2 separate regions of the Homo sapiens genome follow, and region 2 is linked to region 1. Evidence: fine-mapped expression QTL. A gene starts in region 1. The other region holds a variant in brackets. All regions are shown on one strand. Distances are between the middles of the regions.

Region 1 (5,372 bases):
CCCCTCAGAGAACCAAATAGCCTGAGGAAGCAGGAGAGTTCCTGGTTATGGCAGTTTCTTGGTGATTTGGGGCTTCAAGACAGTAGGTGAGAGATGCTGTCAGGACGTATCTTCTTCATACCAAAGTCACTGGTCCTTTCTCAGCCTCTCTCGTGCTTTTCTCCTAATGACCATATTTTTGCCAAAAATTGGGATATGTTATCTGACAGACCAGAATATTTGAAGTTTGGGCTGTCCTGAAAGTCTGGACTTTGGTGGTACCCTCCTCCCCCAGCCCATCTGTTGCACATTATACTCCGTGTGTTCTTCAACTTTCGGCGCCCTTATTCCCCTGCCTTCCTGGCTTGATTGAAGGAAAGCTTGAAAAGGCGCAGAGCCCTATACCTCATTTCCTCCATGATAAAAGGATCCAAGTGAGGCCCTGTCACAGCCTGTGGGTAGGGGATGCGGCGGGATCCTCATTGCCATGGTACTCAAAGGTAGAAGAGCCTGGAGTTTGTTGCTTCTCTTTGCTATTCTTTCATATCCTCTTGGGCCTGGTGATTAATTAGCAATTCTCATTCCTCTCAGCCAAAGGCCTGCACTGGGCTTTATTTGTCTTTTTTTATTTTTTAAGCACTGCCTGCCAGAGATGGGCCTGGGGCCTGATGAGGACCTTAGCGCTGCTCGTTCTCCTTTTCTGTTCATGCACACATTCCTCCATGGGGTGGGGAAGGCAGGCATGGGGTGTGGCCCTCGGAGAAGTTAGGAGTCCCCCAGCTCAAGATACAGTGGCAAAGACCTAGTGGTCCCCTACCCCCACTTCTCTCAGTTCCTGGCATGAGGAGAGAAGACCCTGCTCTGGTGGAGCTGACAACCTTTGAGGCTGGGAGGAGAGCAGCCTCTGGGCATCGTTCCCAGTGTCCCTCACACTAAAACGGCGTAGATGGCAACCCCCCACCCCCACCCCGCTGCTCAACTCTTGTGTTTGTTGTTCTGTTTGCCCCATTTATCTGTTGCTGTTTTTGTGTTGTCTTCCCCTGCTCCGCATTTTGTAAAATGGCCCCTGGGGGAGTGTTTTTGCTGGATCTGCTCCCTCTCGCTCTCTCACTCCACTACTTTTTGGAACAAAGTGATGGCAGAATGCGGTGGTGGTGGGGGTCTTTTGTACTGTTGGATTAATAAAATGATTTTAAAATCCCAGACAAGGACTCCTTGCTGTTGCTGTGTGAAAAGGCTGGAATGAGCCGCTGTCACTGCTGGGTAGGGTGCTTAGGGGTTGAGGATATGTATGCTCCCCAGGGTCCCTGGGAGTGGGAATGGCAGATTTGGCCCCTGAGCTGACCCTGGTATAAGCTGCTGAGCCAAGGGAGGCCTGTGTTTCCCCGCCCATCCCCCTGTGTCTCCACTGTGAGAAACTGAGTTTCCTTTTTGAGCATATTCCTGGGCCAGGCCTGGAGCCAGGCGGATTTGGCACCACAGCCTCTGGAAGACAAGTGCTTGAGCTCTTCTGGGTTTAGCACCCCACCCACCTCCCAGTTGTTTGGGTTAGGGAGCAAGTGTCGCTCTAAGGGTGAGGGGAGGGGCTGCTTCTGTCCTAGCAAATTTCATTTTGGGATGTTTTTCAGATCGTTCCCGTCCCCCAACCGTTTTTTAAAGTAGCAATGGCATCTTTTAAGCAGTCTGTTTTGGAGCAGATTGGGGAGAATGGCAGGAGGGCTATTTCCACACCCTGGATTTGCGACCTGTCCCTCTCCCTTCCCCCATCTCACAGCTGTCTCTGTCTATCCTGGGGCCAACCTGGCCCCTTGTCTTCGTCATCTCAGAAGACGGCACCGTCTGCTTTTCTCTCAGTTTGTGGGGGTTCCCTCTAGAAACTGTTTAGACACTGGGAAAGAAGGGCAGGAAACTCAGGATTCGGTTAGCTGGGACCCCGGTCGCCCACCAGGAGGTAAGCCCAGGTTTAGGGCCGTGTCGCTAGACCTCCCTTCCCCTCCCCTGGCTCTCAATTCCTGCTCTTATTGGCCAAAAGTTTCCGCCCCCTTGGGGAAGTTGACTTTTCATTGGTCAGTTTCTGGTCACATGATTTTCTTCTCGGGCTGCAAACAAAGGGAAGCCTGCAACAAGTTAAGCTGAAGACCGAAGCAAGAGCTGGTTCAGGTAATGCCTTAGCTGGGAAGGGGTCCACAGATTCGCTTTGAAGGGGGTGGAATAAGGAAAAGGGAAGGCGGAACTAATCTAGAAGGAATGAGCTGCTTTTCATTTCTGGGCTGGGGGAGGAAGGCCAGGTGCCGACGCTAACACAACAGGAACTTGCTCTGGGTACCCCAGGCAAGTGGCCCTAGATCCTTTGCTTTAGCGGTTTGGAGGAGCAACTGTTAGAGGAGTTTAAATTAACTAGAGGCGAGACTTCCTAGCTTTATGCTGAGTGGGAGAGCTCCCCCTTTAGCTGTTTTTTAGAAATAGCAGAAGTCTCTGTCATAATCCTTACAGGAGGTGTTTGTTGAATCCTGCCTGAATGAAAAGAAGGGGGTGGAGGGAGGGAGTGGAGGTGGGTTTTCTTCCAGAAGGTCGATGAAAAGAAAAAGATCTGGAAACACAGCAGGGAAGGGTGGAGATTAGACAGCAGAAGGAACTTCCTAATAAGGCAGTGAGATGCTGGCTTGGGAGAAGAGGTGTTTTTTTGAACCCTGGGTTAACCTAACCAAGAAAGAGGTATCAGGGTTTGGAACCCAGAGTATAGGAGTTTCAGAGTGTCTCCTATTTGGGTCTCATAAGTATTTGTTTTGTTGACCCAAATACCTTTGCTGGTTTCCATGGAGACAGTGGGTCTGACATCACTGTGGTTGCCATGGTGCCTGGTTCTAGAGGACCTGAGCAGGCTGCACACACAGCTAGGGATAAACAGGGACTTCAGCCCAAGCTGCTGCCACTTCCTTCCTGCCACCACCTGTTAACAGTCAGCAACTGGGGATGGGGAGATGATAACAAGGGCGGGGGTGGAGCCACAAGCGGAAGGCTGAACAGCCATGGCTCTATGGATACTTACAGATGCATGCCAGGGTGTCCTGTTGGATTTGGTACAGGGAGGTCATTGCAGCCATTCTCCTGTCTCCGTGTGGAATGGGTGCATGTGTCTGGGAGGATGGGCATTGGGAAAGACCTATCCAGGACTTGGATCTTGACTGGCAGGAGCCACAGGAGGTTACTTAGGGCACCACGCAGGACTTGAAAACAGCTCAAACAGAAGGGGATAATGTGGTTGGTTTCAAAGGTAGAACTGCCATACTCTCCCAGCCTCACTTCCCTTTTCCTGAGTTTTCTTATAAAGTGCTCGGGAAGCAGTCATTTATCCTGTTCTGAGGGATCACAATCCAGTACTCTTGAGAGGTCAGCTCATCTATCCTTCCACCTTTATGCCTGGTCCCAACAGGAGCTGCCTGAGGGAACTGTTTTAGCCTTGGATGAAGGGGCGGATCCCTCTCTTCTTACCCTGCTTTGTGTCAGTCAGGCTTTGGAAACTGGAGTGATTCCCTCCCCTATCCCTGTCAAGTCAGAGCAGATTAACCGGGTGCAGGACCATAGCCCTGATTTTTGTCTATTTTTTGCAAGCTATAAAGTGATGTATATATACATGATAGTTGCCATAAATCCATTTTCCCAGTCACCTTCAAGTTCCCTAAGACCAAACTCTGGCGATTACTAAGAAGGTAAACAGAATTTAGGATGAAGACTGAGAGTGATGAGGAGACTTATAAAAGGTGCATCCAGGTGGATCTAAGCTATGCCAGTGGCTCTTAACCCTGGCTGCGCATGAGAATCATTTGAGTGGTTTTTTAAAAGACCCACAGCCGGGCCTACCCCCCAACTCAATTGAATCAAAATCTTAGGTGATTCCAATGTGCAGCCAAGATTGAGAACCACTGAACTAGACCATACCAAGGACTTATGCTGGGCAAGTGGTGGGACACTTAGGGCTGAAGGAGGCCATTGAGTCTTCCCTTCCAGGTCCTGGGGGAGAAGGTAGTGATTGTGTAGGTACCTGGTGTTGTGAAGGGAGGGCTGTGTTGTTTCCCTGCTCTTCTTATTAACAAGTCTTCTTATTGGCAAGTTGAGTCTGTCAACCTTGCTGGGCTTCATCTTCCCTGACTCAAATGTCAGGGGGCTGGACTGGAATTCCCCAGAGCCTTTCCAGCCTATGCTACTTTGACCTTTCAAGGTCAGTTCAGTTTTCCAAGGCCCTGTTGGTCCCTGGAAGAGGCTGGCTTCTCTGTGGGTGTTGGCAGATTCTGATTTGCAAGGCAAATACTGCTTAGAAGAGCTGGGGTGTCAGGGAGAGAAGGACTGGAACCAGGCTTGGTTCTGGAGGCTGCTGCCCAGCACTTGAACCTTGGAACCCAGCCAAGGCTGCTTTCTGCATTCTGCCCCTCCTGAAGGGAGCTCCCATCCTTAAGAGAGCTTTCTTCTGCAGGTGGCAGCCACAGCAGCCTCAGGGACCTCAGCAACTATGGCCTCCTGCCCAGACTCTGATAATAGCTGGGTGCTTGCTGGCTCCGAGGTAGGAAGAGCGGGCCTGGGAACCATGGGGGTGGGGTTGGGGGGTGTTTCTGCAGTGCTGGGCTTCTTTCTTGGTGGGTCCTTTTCCTTAGTCCTGATGGTCACCTACATCACTTCCTGCTGGCTGTTAGAGGAATTCCAGTAGCAGGAAGAAGTAGATCAGGCCCCAGGGGTCAGGTGTTGGCACTTGGACCATGCCATGAAGGAAGGGACCAGTTGGGTAAGCTGAGACAAGTAGGGATGGATTTCGAATGGAGAGACCAATGTGAACAAAGGTCCTGAGGCGATAGTGGGGAACGCCATGCTGGGGGAGACTGTGGGACACCCATGGGTGATGTGGAGACGTGGGTTGGAGCCAGTGTTGGAGTGAGGTTGGGGACAGAGCCTGGGAACCCCTGGAAGAGACCGGAAGAGCCTGGCTGAGGCCTTCAGGCCTCATCCTGATGGGAAATCAGTGTGGGGCTTTGGGTTAGAGGGATCAGGACAATCATTGTCTCAGGCAGAGGGTGAAGCCACTGTGCATGCTGGGTGGGAACAGGGAGAGAGTGTTTCAAAGACCCCCTGCAGCAGTCCAGGTAGCAGCTGGTGGGGCAGAAGCCCACTGAGGAGGGAGAAGGGGGTTGGCAGGATGGGGAACTGAGTGGCTAGAGAAGGGATGGCAAAAATTTGTCAAAGGCATCTCTGAGAGTTCCAAGACGTAGCGACTTTGTATATTAGAGCCACCAGGAGGGGAGGAGGAGAGAAGCTCAGTTTCAACATGTTGAGTTTGAGGTGCCCTTGAGGAACCCAGCTGGGAGTAAGGAGTTGACCTTGGGGATGACGCTGGAGCAAGATAA
Region 2 (5,370 bases), 230 kb after region 1:
CCGAGGCGGGCGGAGCATGAGGTCAAGAGATCGAGACCATCCTGGCCAACATGTGAAACCCCGTCTCTACTAAAAATACAAAAATTAGCTGGGTGTGGTGGCAGTCACCTGTAATCCCAGCTACTCAGGAGGCTGAGGCAGGAGAATCACTTGAACCCAGGAAGCGGAGGTTGCAGTGAACCGAGATCGCGCCACTGCACTCCAGCCTGGGCGACAGAGCAAGACTCCATCTCAAAAAAAAAAAAAAAGAATCATTCTAGTAGAGCCCACATCCCTAAATAAAATTGTTCATCAAAACATCATCATCCAATTTTTCCCTTTTGGGTTTTCCGGGTAATGTTTCTCACTTGAACCATTATGGAAGTGGTTATGGAAGATGAAAATCTGAAAATATGCAGGAATGGGTAGACCATTTAGCTGCTGAAAGTTGGACACCCCACTGAATTGTCTGAGATGAAAAGACCCATTTAGAATAGACAGATACAAGCCTTCCAGAATAACAGCAGGCCAAATGGGCAAGGCAGGAGCTGTTTATTCAAGGACAGCTTTTATGGAAAATTCTTTAGAACTACAGCCTGAAGGAAGGTCAGTAAGATGATTTCCTGCAAGACTGTCCTCTTTCTGAGACGAGACAGAATTAAAACCCTGTGCCCGTGTCTCGGCCTCCATAGTCTTTTTCATTTAGGACTGAAGTAGGTTAAGGGACCCATGAGCAACCAAATTTTGATTTGGGTTTTTGAAAGCTAGAGAAAATATTCAGTGATTAATGTTGCACAGCAGCAAAAATGTGTTAGAAATAGAGACAACGGCAGGAAGGAAGAACAAAAAGAGAGAGAGAGAGAATGACAGAGGGAGCTGCGAGCGAGCTCTTGGGGAAGGCAGTGGGAGAGTGTGCAGCGGCCAAGGCCTCTCCAGTTTCTCAGCAGAATTATTTATGGTGTTTGATTGTTTGGTCTTTGATTACATTTATTGGATTCTGTAAAGAGCCTTAACAGACATTAAAAGGAACTGGTACGGGCAAATATTCTTATGTTGTTGACATTCAAGTGTTTGTACTTGATACATCATGGCCCTGAGCTATCAGCTGCACCAAAAAAAGCCATGATTTGTCACATCACGATGGCAGTGATTGAAGGCTGTTATCACAGTAAGGCCTGCCGGGAACCCTGCCACTTGGCCACTCTCTTTCAGCCCCCTCTAATAATGGGTGCAAAAGTCATGCTCAGTATTGAGGAAATTATTCAAGTTATTGAAACACCTAAATGCAAATCCACTTGCATCTATTTTCCTGAAGCAATTTACTGAGGTTTCACTGGATTGAAACTACGTGCCGGAGTGAGGGCAGGGAGATGTTTTGCCTCCAAAGCCTTCTCATAAGCTGTTTACCAAGAGTAGAGACATTAGCAGTCTCTCTGTTTATTCTGGTTTTCTTTTTTAAGCCAAGAATATTCTTTGTATTTGGTGTTATTCCTTTGTCCTCTCCATTTTTCACCAAGTAGATCAGACGCTAGAGGAAAATAAAGCTGAGGAAAGCCAGCTCCTTTGTATGCCAGGAAAATAAACAATTTTTCTGCAATATAATTGTAGAAGATGAGACTGTGGTTGCTAATTTTAATCTTTCAAAAATGATTCCCTAACATCCTCCTCAATTCCACTTCTTGAAAAGTAGGACTGAAAATCAAATCAACAAATATTTATTGCTCACCCATGAATCTAAGGTAGCTTTTTAATCGAATAACATCTCACTTTTCTGAGAACACTTAAATCTGTTGAAATGTCTCTTTAATATCTAATATCTTTTCTCAAGGAAATAAACAACACAGAAGGGATGGTTCTTACAGAGAGAAGGTTTTCAAAGCTGGCAGGACTAGAACTTCTGAAGGTTCTTTTACATAACCTTAATTGAAATGAAACTGGATGTGTGCATCCTTGGCCTGCTCTGGTTTGAGCTGACTTTGACCTGCTCACAAGAGAACCCCACCTCTCTTCCCCTGGGGATGCCTGGCCTGCCTTCTGTCCTCTTGAAATGGTCCATTGTATCAAGCTGGAGTGGCTCATTGGTCAAGAAGATGCTAAGCAGCCGGGTGCGGTGGCTCACGCCTGTAATCCCATCACTTTGGGAGGCCGAGGTGGGTGGATCATGAGGTCAGGAGTTCGAGACTAGCCTGACCAACATGGTGAAACCCTGACTCTACTAAAAATACAAAAATTAGTGGGGCGTGGTGGCACACACCTGTAATCCCAGCTACTCAGGAGGCTGAGGCAGGAGAATCGCTTGAATCTGGGAGGCAGAGTTTACAGTGAGCCGAGATCCCACCACTGCACTCCAGCCTGGGCAACAGAGCAAGACTCTGTCAAAAAAAAGAAAAAAAAAAAAAGAAATACTCACTCTCAGACATGATCCTTAGAAGCTCTTGGCCGGGCGCGGTGGCTCATGCCTGTAATGCCAGCACTCTGGGAGGCCGAGGCAGATGGCTCAGGAGGTCAGGAGATTGAGACCTTCCTGGCTAACACAGTGAAACGCTGTCTCTACTAAAAAAAAATCCAAAAAAATTAGCCGGGCGTAGTGGCACGTGCCTGTAGCCCCAGGTACTCGGGAGACTGAGGCAGGAGAATCGCTTCAACCTGGGAGGCGAAAGTTGCAGTGAGCCGAGATCGTGCCACTGCACTCCAGCCTGGGCAACTGAGCGAGACTCCATCTCAAAAAAAAAAAAAAAAAAAATGCTAAGCTCAGTCTATTCATAACATCTCAGTGAATTCTCAGAGAAAGATCCAACATGAAGGAGTTGACTGTGGCATAATTGCAACCTCTTCGGAGTGGGCAATTAGTAGATTTGACAGATAAAAGCAGTCTCTTACCGGTATATGCAACCTTGATGCTTCAAAGACCTACGCAAAACGAAAAAAGGAATTGTAGCTATTAATCATAGAAAATACTCAAATTGTTCTAGTATTTATTCATCCTGTCTTGCTCTAAAGACTGCAGCCTAGCCTTTGCCATGAGAGCCAGCACTATTTTTATTTATTTGTTTGTAGGGAGGGAAGAGGGTCTGATAGCACTGGGTAAGAACTCAATTTCTGCTTTTCTTGAGTCCCATGCTTATCTTCTTTCCTCGTATGACTTATCAACTCTGGTGGCAACGTCATTTCTGTATTTAATTCAATCAGATCTTCCCACACTGACTTCGCAGTGTCACTGCCATTGTTATTCTGTAATTATAACTTATTGCTAATCT[C/T]TGGGCTACTAGATAATATTTAAGTACATGATTCACAGAGGGACTGGAAGAAAGATACTAGAGCCCCATCTTTTCTGCCACTTAGTGTTTTCATGTCCCCATCTTTCTGTTTTATGTAGCTAAACAGATCCATCACAGAGGCCACTCCCTGGGTGCCACACTCTGTACTCTGGGGGCACCAAGATGGGTAAGAGGTGGTCCTCACCTCCATCCCTAACCTCTGGTGGCTGACTGCCCTCAGAGAGCACTTCTTCTTATAAGAGGTAGAGTGGGCCGGGTGCGGTGGCTCACGCCTGTAATCCCAGCACTTTGCGAGGCCGACGTGGGCGGATCACTTGAGGTCAGGAGTTCAAGACTAGCCTGGCGAACATGGTGAAACCCCGTCTCTACTAAAAATACAAAAAATTAGCCGGGCATGGTGGTGGGTGCCTGTAATCCCAGCTTCTCGGGAGGCTGAGGCAGGAGAATTGCTTGAACCCAGGAGGCGGAGGTTACAGTGAGCTGAGATCGTGCCACTGCACTCCAGCCTGGGTGACAGAGTGAGACTCCATCTCAAAAAAAAAAAAAAAAGGAAAGAAAAAGAAAAAAAAGGCAGAGTGGGCTGCTATGGACACACTTGGCTTGGGAGGCACCATGGACCGGAGATATTTTCTTTGCGGTACCTACTCTCCACATCAAGCCACAGTGAGCAGAACCTTCAGACAGCACAGTGTGCTAAGGATCCTATCTCCTTCTTGCTGCAGGGGTTTCTTGCCCCAAGTAGCTCACCCAAGTACACTTCCCCATGAATTCAATGAATAAGACCAAAATTAAACCCACAACTTCCCTAAACTATTTCCTTCTCCTAACTTCCCTGGTGTGCTCCTGACATCGTGTTCTTCCAGACGCCAGGCCTAAAGACTTAGCCCCATTTCTGACTCCTCTGGACCCTGGACCCCACGAGGGTCTGAGCACTTTCTGTGTCTGATTTCACCTTGCCGTGGCTGTTCACGCATGCCCGCCTCTCCAGGGCCTCGGCCCCGCCACTCTTGAAGCCGCCATCTTCTGTCTCGCACTATCACAGCAGCCTGCTACCTGCTCTCCTCACTTCGGCGTCCCTTACCCCAGTCATCCTGCACTCTGCTTCCCCATGGATCTCCTTAGACTCTCAGGCTTAGCTCTGAACAAATTACTTCCTGCTCAAAAACCTTTAAGTAGTTTCCCCACCTACTATCTCCTGAATGACACTGAAGAAAACTTTTCTTTAATTACAAGCATATGCCAAAGTTTGATCATAATCTTGCTAGAAGAAAATTTTCTTCAGCAGGCTAATTCAAAGATTACTCTTAGTAGTGGTATTTCGTAGGAAAAACAATGGTAGTCATTGTTATGCCAGATTATAGAAGGTTTAGCTAAAGACTGCTAATGGACAGCTGGTTGGGCTCAACAGTGGATTTCCAGAACAAGTCTTCAAGTCTTTACAATGGATCAGATAATCAATAGGGCAGTTATCAGGAATGCTAATTCTCCCCAGAAGAGGATTATAAATTACATCACGCACAAGGTTCTGTCCCAGACAGATTGGGTGCAGGTTTTCTTTAGCAATAGTCACAGAAACAATGTGCGTTTAAGCTGGAAGGACCCTTAGGGAAGAGCCACTCCAACCCACATGAGAAGACGAAGGCCCAGAAAGGGGCGAGGGTGGGCCCCCGGCCTATGCAAGATCCACTTTGCTCTCAGACCATCAGGCAGGCAGCTTTAGGGCGGTCAGTTCCTTGGAACTCAGCATGGGGTTAGGGTCCCAGACCTGCTGAAAAGAAAAGCCAGCTTAACTCCACCCTAACTGAGTATCACATAAATAGCATTATAGAATTATCCACCACCCATTACCATATTGCTACAGGGAGAACCTCAAGCTCCAACTCTGAACAACGGAAATACACCTCCTCTCTCTCTACCCAATTTCCTGCCAGCCAGAGAGGTGGAGCTCCCAGTTCTAAGTGGTCAGTGAGGGCCTCTGGGTGAGGCAGGCAGAGAAGCCTGTAAAGGGAGTGTGGAATAGAACAGGGGGAGGAAAAAGAGGAGGTGCAAGCAGGGTGATGAAAGAGAGGGCAGCCGGGGAAGCCAGAGCAAGTCTGCAGGGTGGTGATGAGGG

Direction of the effects. Positions count from the first base shown, and alleles are read on the strand shown. Sizes are in standard deviations (SD) of each study's normalised expression.
With allele T in place of C in region 2, the expression in thyroid of the gene that starts at base 2,109 in region 1 is lower (moderate effect, 0.47 SD a copy in GTEx).

Evidence for each region.
Region 2: its variant is fine-mapped to the expression of PBXIP1 in thyroid (GTEx, PIP above 0.99).

The regions. Positions count from the first base shown.
Region 1 is chr1:154,952,836-154,958,207 of GRCh38, reverse strand. PBXIP1 (PBX homeobox interacting protein 1) reads left to right here and starts at 2,109. Exons shown (of 11, transcript NM_020524.4): 1 at 2,109-2,139; 2 at 4,451-4,537. The coding sequence starts at 4,487. It overlaps PYGO2 (pygopus family PHD finger 2), which reads left to right. Exons shown (of 3, transcript NM_138300.4): 3 at 1-1,182.
Region 2 is chr1:154,719,738-154,725,107 of GRCh38, reverse strand. All of the region lies in intron 5 of KCNN3 (potassium calcium-activated channel subfamily N member 3), which reads left to right. Among named protein-coding and RNA genes, the nearest start is that of ADAR, 110 kb to the right of the region's middle. The variant C/T (reference allele first, on the strand shown) is at 3,237.